Linked DNA regions of Homo sapiens: region 2 is linked to region 1. Evidence: fine-mapped expression QTL. Tissue or cell type: cerebellum. Region 1 holds a variant in brackets; the other region holds the start of a gene. All regions are shown on one strand. Distances are from middle to middle.

The links. PIP is the estimated chance that this variant, and not a neighbour inherited with it, causes the effect.
Region 2: it holds the start of CNTN2, and the variant in region 1 is fine-mapped to the expression of CNTN2 in cerebellum (GTEx, PIP above 0.99). The same link has a PIP of 0.9 or more in cerebellar hemisphere.

The regions. Positions count from the first base shown.
Region 1 is chr1:205,012,885-205,018,620 of GRCh38, forward strand. NFASC (neurofascin) reads left to right here. Exons shown (of 30, transcript NM_001005388.3): 30 at 3,424-5,736. The coding sequence ends at 3,655. Among named protein-coding and RNA genes, the nearest start is that of CNTN2, 27 kb to the right of the region's middle. RefSeq lists enhancers at 1-71, 1,179-1,730, 5,101-5,736. The variant G/A (reference allele first, on the strand shown) is at 2,560.
Region 2 is chr1:205,041,262-205,046,129 of GRCh38, forward strand. CNTN2 (contactin 2) reads left to right here and starts at 1,951. Exons shown (of 23, transcript NM_005076.5): 1 at 1,951-2,133. RefSeq lists enhancers at 1,645-1,789, 1,737-1,881 and cis regulatory regions at 1,717, 1,809.

The DNA of each region.
Region 1 (5,736 bases):
CCTCTCTCAGGCAGGCTGTCCTCCCTGTCCCTGAGGCACCACCCTCCCCTCAGAGTAGCTCCGCTTGGCTGAGAGGCCATGAGTAGCTGTCCTTGCCCATTGGGCTGTGACTCTGCCTCTCTGGTGGCGCTGTGGTGGAGAGTGCATGCTGCTGAGTTTACTCAGAGGCTTCTCATCCTGAGAGTGCCAGACGAGGCTGCTCCCCCAGGAGTCACTGCCCGACACATGCGTGCATTAGTTTGACGAACAGCATTTCATTCATTCAACTGCACAACTCAAATGTATCAAGCTTGCTATGTATGTCTTTCCACCTTTTCACTCTGAACATGAGCCCCAGGACCCTCTTGCCGTGAGATGAGCTCAGCTCTCATGCTGATTCTCTGCCCACACTCCATTCCTAACCCTGAAGATAATGACCCTGGGAGGCTGTGATGTCTTAAAGCCTCAAGGAATGAAGGTGGGGTGATTCCAGGTCGTTTCTCCTTGAACTTGGCGATATCTTTGGGCTCTAGACTGGAATGGGCCTTGGAAAGGCTTCTGGTCCAGTGCCCTATGCCCCAGATGAGAGGACTGAGGCCCAGACCAGGAAGCGAATTGTCTAAGACTCTTCCAAGGTCCCCACCCAGTGAGTTAGTGGCAAAGCTGGAAAGGCCAGGTCCCGCATTTCCAGCTGGTGCTGCTATTCTATACTTCTATACCCATGCTCCTGTCCTACCTGGATGCATCTTTGTATGTGGGCTTAACAACATTGTTGTGGGTCCATGGAGATGGCGAGTATGTTCTGAGCTGAAGGATGATGCAGAGTGGGCTGTGGAGTGTCATTCCCAGACCAAGTGCTATGGGAGGGAATGTCTGATCAGAGCCCTCCCTCCTCATGCCACCCAGTTACTGCCTGGGCCCAGGTCCCCTTGTCCTCTGCTACAGTCTCCTTTTCCTGTCCTGGGCCTCTGCCACTCTGCCCATCAGCCTGGCAAGCACAATCAGATCAATGTGTGGTGGAGCCACTGCCCACACAGGAGCCTGTCTGCAGGCTTATGGGCCATGACTGTCCACCTAGTCCCGACATTCCCAGAAGCATCCTGAAAGGGCAGGCACAAGAGCCCCCTTCCCATCTTCCCTGGCAGGGCTTCCCTGACACAGCTTCCCTGTGGGCTGAGACTTCCCTGGCTTTTTGTTCCAAAAGCCACAGGGCTTCTCCTCCCCCAGACTCTTGGTGCAGCCAGAGAGGAGGAGCTTGGACCTCCTCCAATACAAGGCTGGGCAGCCTGTACTGCGAGGAGTTGCTTCCTTATGCACCTCTCCTGCCCCAGACACCAAAGCTGTCAGGCAAAAACCCCTGCCTCCTCCCCGCAGACACTGACCCTGGGTCTACACGCACAGGAGCATGCCTGGGCCTGCACCCCTACACGCACACACCCCTCTGCTTTGGCTCTGGAAGGTCCGCAGCATCCATCCTAGAGCCCTCCCTTGGATGAGTCTAAGAGCCCTAACCTGGGAAAAGGCTGAAATTAATACATCAGAGAAAGAACTAAGTTTCTAGAGAGGATAGGCCTAGGGGCGAGGAGTGCTGTTCTCTCACTCCAGTCTGTGGCTAAGTGGCCGACCACCTTTCCCATGGGGCACCCTCTGTTTTTCTCCCCTATATCCATCCACCTAGACCTTGAAGATGTCTCAGAAGTGAGGCTGACAGGTGGCCAGACCAGGGCCACCCCTAGTCATTCTAGTTTCTTTCAAGCTTCCCTTAGGAGAGGTCTGTTCGGTCTGTTCTTTTCAGACCTAGATCCCCCGTCCCCTCAACAGCCTGGCATGCTACAGATCTCTTCCCCCGCCCCTTCCACTGGCTGGGCTGTTGCTGCCCAGTGGCTGCACTTAGCTTAGCTGCCTGGAAACAGAGGAGGAATTCCCACAAATCCCATAGCACAGTCCTCATGCCCCTGCACATGGGATAGAGGGCCCTGGAAAGGAGTGCATGCGAATAAGACCTGCAAGTGGGGTGAGGAGCCTGGCGATTTCCCTCCTCCAGTTGGCAAACAGTGACTTCCGCTTCCTGCACAAACTCAGCACAGCCCCAGAGAGCTGCCTCCCTCACACCATCTCCCAACCCACGGCTGTCCCACGAATACAGTTAGGCTGTATTCGTGGGGCAGCACTGTGGGGAGTGGGCTAATAGCTTTCAATCTTCTAACACAGCCCCGGCTCTGGCTCGCTGCCCTCACCTGACAGCTGTCTTTGCCCGACACTGCTATTAGAAGTGAGAACGCACTGCCCACTATAATGGCAACTCAGCTGGTTGTCTTCCCCACGTCCAGGAAGGACTGGGGGTGGGTGGGGAGCTGGGGGCAAGGCAGTGTGTGGTGTGTGTCTGCTCAGACCGCCTGGCACCGCTATGGTCCCACCACTGAGACCCAGACTCCCACTGCTCAGACCCAGACTCCCACTGCTCATCCTGAGCTGCCTCCTGCCCAGGAACTGGGCTAACCTCTGAAGTGCAGCCAGCACCACCTGGTCCCCACTCTGAGCCTTTCCAGCCAAGGGAAGGGACATGGTGCCTGAACAGAC[G/A]CTGGCTCAGAGAGCAGCCCCGCGCCTCCTCAGGAGCACAGCAGACATCCCAACTGGGTGGCTGTTCCCAGCGGCCCGTGCAGCTTTACTCGGCAGCCTCCCAGCTCTCCCTGCACAAGGGGAGCTTAGGGTCAGGGCCTATGGGCCTCAGAAGGGGCTGGGCATGATCCTCTGAGCCTTGCTGTCTTCTCACGTTTGCTGGCATCACCTGCTTACCTGTGTGCCCCCCCACCACCACCACTCTTGCGCACCTGTGCTTGCTAGGCCCAAAGCAATAACATCTTTTTATAGATCAACCAGATAGCTCAGCGAAAGACACCAAGACAGACAAGCAGAGAGGTGAGGGAGAGGTTTGTTCCTTTAAAAGCCTTGCTTGTTGTCAAGGCGAGAGTGTTTCCCTACAGAGTCACAGGTCTTGGGAGATCAAAGCTGGGCCAGCCCCTCTTGATGGACAGACTGAGGCCCAGGTCACAAAACCACACAGTGACACACTCGGGACTAGAACCATTCCATGTGGTCTCACAAGCAGTGGCTCTGCCTCACCATGGGGTGGCCATCCTCTGTCCACTTCCACCACACACAGGGACCCAATCTCATGGAAAAGACCCAGAACAGGAGCCCAAAAGCATGGGCTCCACTCCCTGCCCTGCCCTGACCTGCAACCTCACCTTAGAGAAGGTGCTTGTCCTCTCTAGGCCTCCATTTCCCTTCTGCAAAGCAGGCTGGACAGGGGAGGGTGAAGCGGGGGCTGGACTGGGCGGTCTCCTGGATCCCATCCTCTCTGAGCTGTGTAGGGCATGTGCTGGCAGGAGGCCAGCTGCCCCATCTCACCCCACCTGAGATTCTCTGTCTCTCTTTGGCCAGTGATGAGGACAACAAGCCCCTGCAGGGCAGTCAGACATCTCTGGACGGCACCATCAAGCAGCAGGAGAGTGACGACAGCCTGGTGGACTATGGCGAGGGTGGCGAGGGTCAGTTCAATGAAGACGGCTCCTTCATCGGCCAGTACACGGTCAAAAAGGACAAGGAGGAAACAGAGGGCAACGAAAGCTCAGAGGCCACGTCACCTGTCAATGCTATCTACTCTCTGGCCTAACGGAGCCCACCCAGGCACAGCCACCACTTTGCAAGTGGGAGGAGGGGAGAAGGGGAGACAAAACCACTGCAGACCTACCACGAAGCCACCACCACCTTCAGTAACAAGGGTACGATATGGGGGTCTGCCAAGCTGTGAGGACCAGTAGCCACCAAGCCACCCACAAGCCCCCTCCCAATGACCCCCCTTCAGCCCCGGGTGCCACCAGTGTGGGAGAGCTGGAGCCGTGGCTGAGCTCAGCTGGAGGGAGCCTGGCCCCTTGCCCGGTCTCGCAGCCACCCCGAGCGTTCCACCACACTGTCCGCCCTTGGCCTCGGCACACGCTCACCTTTTCTGTTGGTTACGGGACTTCTCATTGTCTTAATTTCGCTTTGTGCATCTTCCCCTCCAGACCCAATGTCTCTGTTTTCTTTTCCTTTTGAAAAAGAGTCCCTGGAAAAGAAAGAATAAGTGGATTCTCCCCCAGGAGAATCCTTTTTGCAAAGATAGGCAAAAAGGATTGAATCCATACCAGAACACGTAGACAGGCTGTAATATTCAAACCACCTCTGGGCCAATGCATTTCCAAAGGATGCCTTTCTCGCCATATGCCTCCCCTGGCCCCCAGCCCCTCTGCCTCGGCCTTGTCAGTTGCTGAGCTGGGCTTGGCTCCTTTCTGGAAAATGACAGTATTTTTGGCAGGGAGAAGGTGCGCAGGCCTCCTTGCTGCTCTCTGGTTTGGTTGGGAGGTGTGTTTACCTCTTGCTCCTCATTCCTCCCCTGCCCTTTTCTCTGGAATATCTAAGATGTGAGCTGCATTGACTCTGAAGACGTTTGAGGAACAGGAGTGGGCACTGATAGAAAGGACTTCAACGCCAGTGACTGTGTACCTCCAGCAGAAGAAAATCAGGTGTCTGGTCTTGGGGGCACTGTGCTCACTTCTAGAGAGAAGAAAAAGGCTGGGTTTGGACTTCATGCCTCCTCACTGGTGAAACCCAGGATGTAGATAGAGGGCCACACCCACCCTGTCCAGAGTAGAGGGCACCTGTCCACGTGGCCAGGGCCCATGCTGCCACCCTCGAGGAGATGGAACCCTGTGATGCAAAAGCTTTGCTGGTGTGTTTGGGGCATAAGGCACTGCTCCCCTTCCATCTCTAGCAGATATCATCTTCTCAGCCAATTCTGTAGGACACTGAGGCTCTTGTTTGACATGGTGTGTGGATGGGGACTTGCCCCAAGACTGAGCAGGTCTGCCCTTTCATTGGGGTGTATACATATCAGGGGACCCTGAGGTGGCACCGTACTCAGTGTTGTGATGCCCCCACCTAGGGAGGACTCAATGCTCTTTGTATGCCTTATGCAGCGCTGATCTGTCCCTGGAGTTCCCAGGTTCCCAGCTCCCCCCCTGCAAGCCTTGAAGCCTCCAGCAACGTCTATCTCCAGGAGAGCAGGGCAGCCTATGCAAGTGTTCCGGCAGGACCAGAAGTGGCCACTCAACACACGTCCTCACCAGTCACCCCAAATGGAGACACTCGCAGACCTGCAGTTCTCAGACCGAAGGTGCTGCCTTCATCCTCCCCACCTAATGCATTTTTGAAACCAAAGGTACCTAGCCTCAGAGACAGAGAAGGAGAGGGGGAGATCTTGAGTCTAAGAGGAACCCTTTAGCTGTTTCTGCAGCTGAGGTCAGTTTCAGGAGGGTGAAGCTGATCCCCAGGAATGGATCAGCTGCCATGGGCACAGCCTCCGATTTGAGCCTCTCCGGCTGCCAGCCAGGGGGCCTGGGCCAGACCAGGGCTCTGTCCTTCCGTGACTTTATTAAAGCAACATTTGCCACATGTTTAAGCCGCAAAGGTATTAGCAATGCTTGCATCATTAATAATCATTCAGTTGAAGGTCAAGCCCATAGACACACACTCTCTGCTGGTAAGAAACCATAGCCCAGAACTGAGCCAATAAGGTTGTTTGAACCTGAGAGTGTGTAATGGTCATTTGGGCCAAGCCTCAGCTAGGGCTGCTGCCTGGACGCCTGAGGGGCAGCTTATCACAGTGCAAGGGGACAGGGTAAACAGCAGGGGGTGGGGTGTGAGCTTGGAGGGCCC
Region 2 (4,868 bases), 28 kb after region 1:
AAGACCCAAGTCACCTGTGCTAACGACCCTCCCCAGAGACCCAGCTCCCACCACAGGGCAGCAGCTGTCCTAAAATAGAGTCACAAAGACAGCTGTCTCCGTCTAAAGCAATCCTTGCAAGCATTTCCAGACTGTTGGTTCCTGGGCCAGCCTATTTCCTGGCCCGTCAGCCCCCTGCAGCAGACATAGCATCCTTTTCTTGGCAAGGACTTGTTCCTGCCGTTTTCTGCTAGGAGAGAACTTGCAGAGCCTCTCTTTGGAGCCCAGGCTGACTTGAATGGTGCCAAAGAGCAAGGTTCACCTCAGGAGCTCAGAGCCAATGTGCCAGCCCTCAGACATACAGATAGGCAAGGACAGTGTGGGCAGGGGAAGGAAGGGAAAGATATCCTGGCAAGGGGTTGATGTGTCTGTCTATATAACAGCATTCAACATTATTTAAGAAACATCATTAGCAAAATCCAAGTCCTCCCCATCAGGAACAAAGAAGACTATCTCTCAAGTTGGGCAAGCCCTTTGGAGGGGCTCAGAAGGAAAGGAGGGGAGCGCATGTGGGACCTGGGCAGACATTCCAGCCTTGGAGGCTGAGCAGCAGAACCTCCCCGACTCCTTCTCCTTTTCCAGACCCTCTCATTCTGGCCCAGGTCCCCAGGACCTCCTCCACTCAGGGAGACATGGAGCCATGATCCAGGCTTGACAGGTATAGCCATTTAAAACTGGGAGGCTGGCCTGGCCCTGCCAGCTGTTGCAGCATCTGGACTGCTCACCGGTCTTGCCTGTGCAAGCTGGACAGCAGGCAGATCAGAGGGGGGTGAGACAACAGTGACAGCCTGACAGGGCCGACTGGTGCCGCAGATGGCTGGTCCCTCCGCCTCCGGGCCACAGCCTTCCTGGGCACTCCCCCACGTGACCGGAGCAGGGCAGGAGAAAGGCATCGCTGACAAGGGTGAGCACTTAGAATCTCAGAGCTGGCAGGACTGTGTCCATCTTTAATCCCTTCAGGTACCAGCGAGGCTCAGAGAGGGCAGGGCACCTAGCCAAGCACACACAGCCAGTCGGTTGTGGAGCCCAGAGTATGCTTCAGACACCCAGACCCCTAATCCAGGGAGCTTTTCATGACATCACACTGCTGGTTGCTTAAAAATGGGATTGGATCCAAACGTACTGATGCGTAAAAGTGTCCAAGATCAGTTACACAGTTAAAAGTCTTTGGCCAATCCTACTGTTTTATGTAATCACATTTGTGTGAAATAACCCTACTAACCCATGTAATTGTATACACGAAAATAATAAACCTGGGGGCATGTACTTAGATTTATTAAGAGTAGTGGTTGAGGGACTTTCACTATGTATTTTTAAATGTCCTCTAATATTTAGATATTTTGACAAAAAGCTCAAACTACTTTTGAACAAGGGAAACAATAAAGAGGAACATGGGGTGGACCGGGCAACAGAGACAGCCCCTCCCTGCCACTTGCCCCACACAGCAAGCTGGGATTTCTGATTTGGATCTCTTCCTCGGATAGGGGATTTCTGGGGAAACCAGGAGTTTTGGCTCCATGGGTCTCCAGGGTTTGAGGAGTAAGAGCCACTTTCTTTTCCCTCTTCACCCCGCCCCTCTCCTGCCCCTTCAGCCCTGGGCAGGGGGACTAGAAGTGGGGCTGGGCAGGATCGGGAGGGCAGGCGGGCCAGACAGCGCCCCGCGGCCTGTCCATGAGCGGCCCATGCATTATGGAAGACGCGCGCTGGGCTCGCTCCCTGGTCCTTAAATGACAGCAAATGAGGTAAAGCCAGGAGGGTGGGGACGGAAGTGGGGTGGGAGGGGGGCAGAAGGAAGCCATCTCCAGGGCCCCCGAGCGTTGGCTGAGGACCAGAGCCAGCCAGTGAGCGGAGCCTGGGAGAGGGAGGAGCACATCTTGATGCAGAGATGCTGCAGTGGCTCCGGGCGCGCTCACACACACGCGCCCTCACCCGCCACCGCCGCCGCGGCCGCCGCCGCACCCGGACAGCGAGCGGCTGAGGCCGCCAGGGCCCAAAGGACAGCGGCCCAGACAGGGGCTGGCGGCCCGGCCGGCCCCGGCTCACCGACTCGGGCAGCATCCACCTGCCCCAGCCAACACCCTTCTCTCGCCCCAGGTAGGTGCCAACCGCTTTTGTCTCCTCCAACCCAGGGACTTCCCTGCGTGCTGTTATGGGCCGGGGCTCCCGGCTCAGTTCCTGTAAATATCCCCCTTGTAACTTGGGAGGGAACAGGGACAGGAACACTGGCAGGCTGGGGCCGTTCTGACTTCTCCCCTCAGCCCCAGGGTGGGTGCTGGGGCTCCCCTCCGCCCTGTCTACGTGGGCGGCATCCCGCAGGGCTCTCTCAGGCCGAGCCTGGCCGAAAAGCTGGACCCCAGGAGTGTGTCCAGGAATTCCAGTTGGCCAGCGGGCAGTGGCAGCTGCCTGTGGAGAGGGCAGTTTCTCCTGGGCCGGCCCTGGGCACCCGGTCCAGGACAGGACCAGTCCATACAGCCAGGCCCTGGGCCCTGGCCTGCCCCAGAAGTCCCTGCATGGAATTGAGCCGGAGTCCCCAGTTTTGAGGTCACCCAGGGTCTACCTCTGCAGGGTGACCTCTTTGCAAAGTCTTGCTTCAGCTGGATGGAGAGGGGGGCTGTGGAAGAGAGAGGGGAGAGTGGAGCACAAGTTTGGGCAAGGGCCTGTCCAGGAACTGGGACTCGGGGAGGAGAGTCCTGAGGCCAGTCACATCCCAAAGGGCGAGAGGCTGGGGCTACCGGGCTGAAATTCCTTTCCTTCCCTTCCCCCTCCCAACCTTAGCTTCTCCTCAAATCCCTCCCCCCCATCCTCACTGGTGGGAGGGAAGAATTTGCACAAAGTTTGGCTTTCCAGTAAGGAAAGGGGCTGGGGCCAGAATGGTATGGGGAAGGGAAGGGGCAGAGCTGGGGAGTTCTGGAAAGAGAGGGCAATCCTTCTGCCCAGCACCGTGGGGCTTACATAATGGGCTGGAGGTGGGGGGCAGCCCCAGCCAGTGAGTGTCCAGAGCTGAATCCTGTCACCTTCTCCAAGAGGGTCTCTCAGGTCTGGGAAGCAGCGGGGCATGGAGAAGGCAGTGCCTATGGAAGGGGAGAATCCTGCTGCTACTTGGGGATGGAGACGGGCACCCTCTAGCCCCAGACCCCTGGGGGTTGAGCCTGTGTCCTGGGGGGGGGGGTCCAGTGAGGCCAGGAGGGAGTGGGGTTGTGCATGCCATGGCCCCAGCCCTGGAGAAAGGTGGGTTTCAGCATCTTTTCCCTCTGCTCAGAAGGAGCTGGGAGGAGGAACAGCCCAAGAAACCCAGTGCACAGGTGATGTTCTGGTCTCGTCTGGGCAACAGTTTCGGCCTCCTCTCCCAACCGTCTGGCCAAAGACGCCTCAGCTCACTTAGCCTCCGAGTCTCTCTACCTCCTGGTCCCACTCAGAGGGGCCGGATGAGCCACTGGAGATCGAGTGCAGCAAAAGGTGGGCCACCTGTGGGAGAGGCTGCTGTGATCGCACCTGGACAGGGAGATGGCCTGGAGGTCACAACAGGTGCCCTCACTCCTGGCCTTGGGAGAAGGGAGCTCTCCCCTTAAAGACAGCAGCATCCAAGCCCCTCCCCAGGGTGCCCACCAGTTAACCCCTTTCTAGCCAAGCTGCAGAACCATGGACAGGGCTTTTGCCACAAGGTCAGAGTCCTTCCTAATCTCCCGTGGAAGTCCTCAGCGAATAAGAGGGAGGCAGGAGGTGAGACAGACAGGAAAGGGCCCCTGACCTGATGATGTCAAAGTCACCCAAGGTCCACCTGCCTCACAGGTGCAGAGACCACTGTGCTCACACCATGAGCGGTGAGGGAAGCAGAGGCACACTCCTTATGCAGATGAGTGCCTCAGACTCCAGGAGTCTGCTCTCATTCCCGGCTCTTTCTCTCTTACTCTCCTCCCTTCCTCTACTCCTTCTTTCCTCGCACTCCCTTCTCTCATCGCGTGTACTCCACCGGCTTCAGCCCTCAGCCTCCCGCCGCCACCATTTCCCCTGCCAGATTTCACTCCTTATGCAACTCCATTCCAGCACCTTCTCTGCCAGCAGTTGTTCAAATAGAGACACATGTGGGATGGGCCTCCGAGGAATTGTGCTTAACGGGGTGATTGCACATCTCGTCTCTGGCTGACCAAACTTACTCCTTAGGAGCATGTACATAGACAGGTGTACCCCAAGGCATCCTTTCTGCCTCTAAAGTCACCAGGGAAGCAACGCATTTGGGGTGGTTTGGAGGATGCATGGTGCCCTCTTCAGAAACCTCCTTGAGCCAAACGTTGGTGAGAAAGCGTATTTCAAAGACAATCTCTAAGCCTGAGTGTGGGTGGTATTTGTATTTTTGGAGGGATTCCTAGGGCAGAACCAGGGGGTTGGAGAAGAGGTGATTGATATGCAGGGGAGGAAGAACCAGAGCAAAGAATATGCCAGGGAAGCCAGAGGGACTTAAGTTAGACTGCAGGAGACACTTCCTGGCTAGAAGAGTGAGCCATGAGGAGGTGGGGCAGTCTCCTTTCAGATGACTCTAAGGATGGTGTGGAGAACTGGGGTCTGGTCCAAGGTTAGAGAGTCCTGCCTAGAGGCAAAGGTTGGGCTGGCTGACCCTGTAAATTTCTTCCAACTTCTAGTAATCCTCTTTCAAATGGTAAAAGGTGGATGTGACTCAGGAATCCATAAGAAGGCAGACATCCTTTTCATCCCCTCATGCATGCTGGCCACCCCCTCATCCTTCAGGACTACAACCCCAATCTAAACAAACCACCCAGAGGCTGTTGCTAACCTGGAACATTTATGGGAGTTTCTGTGGGCTCCGTATCCTG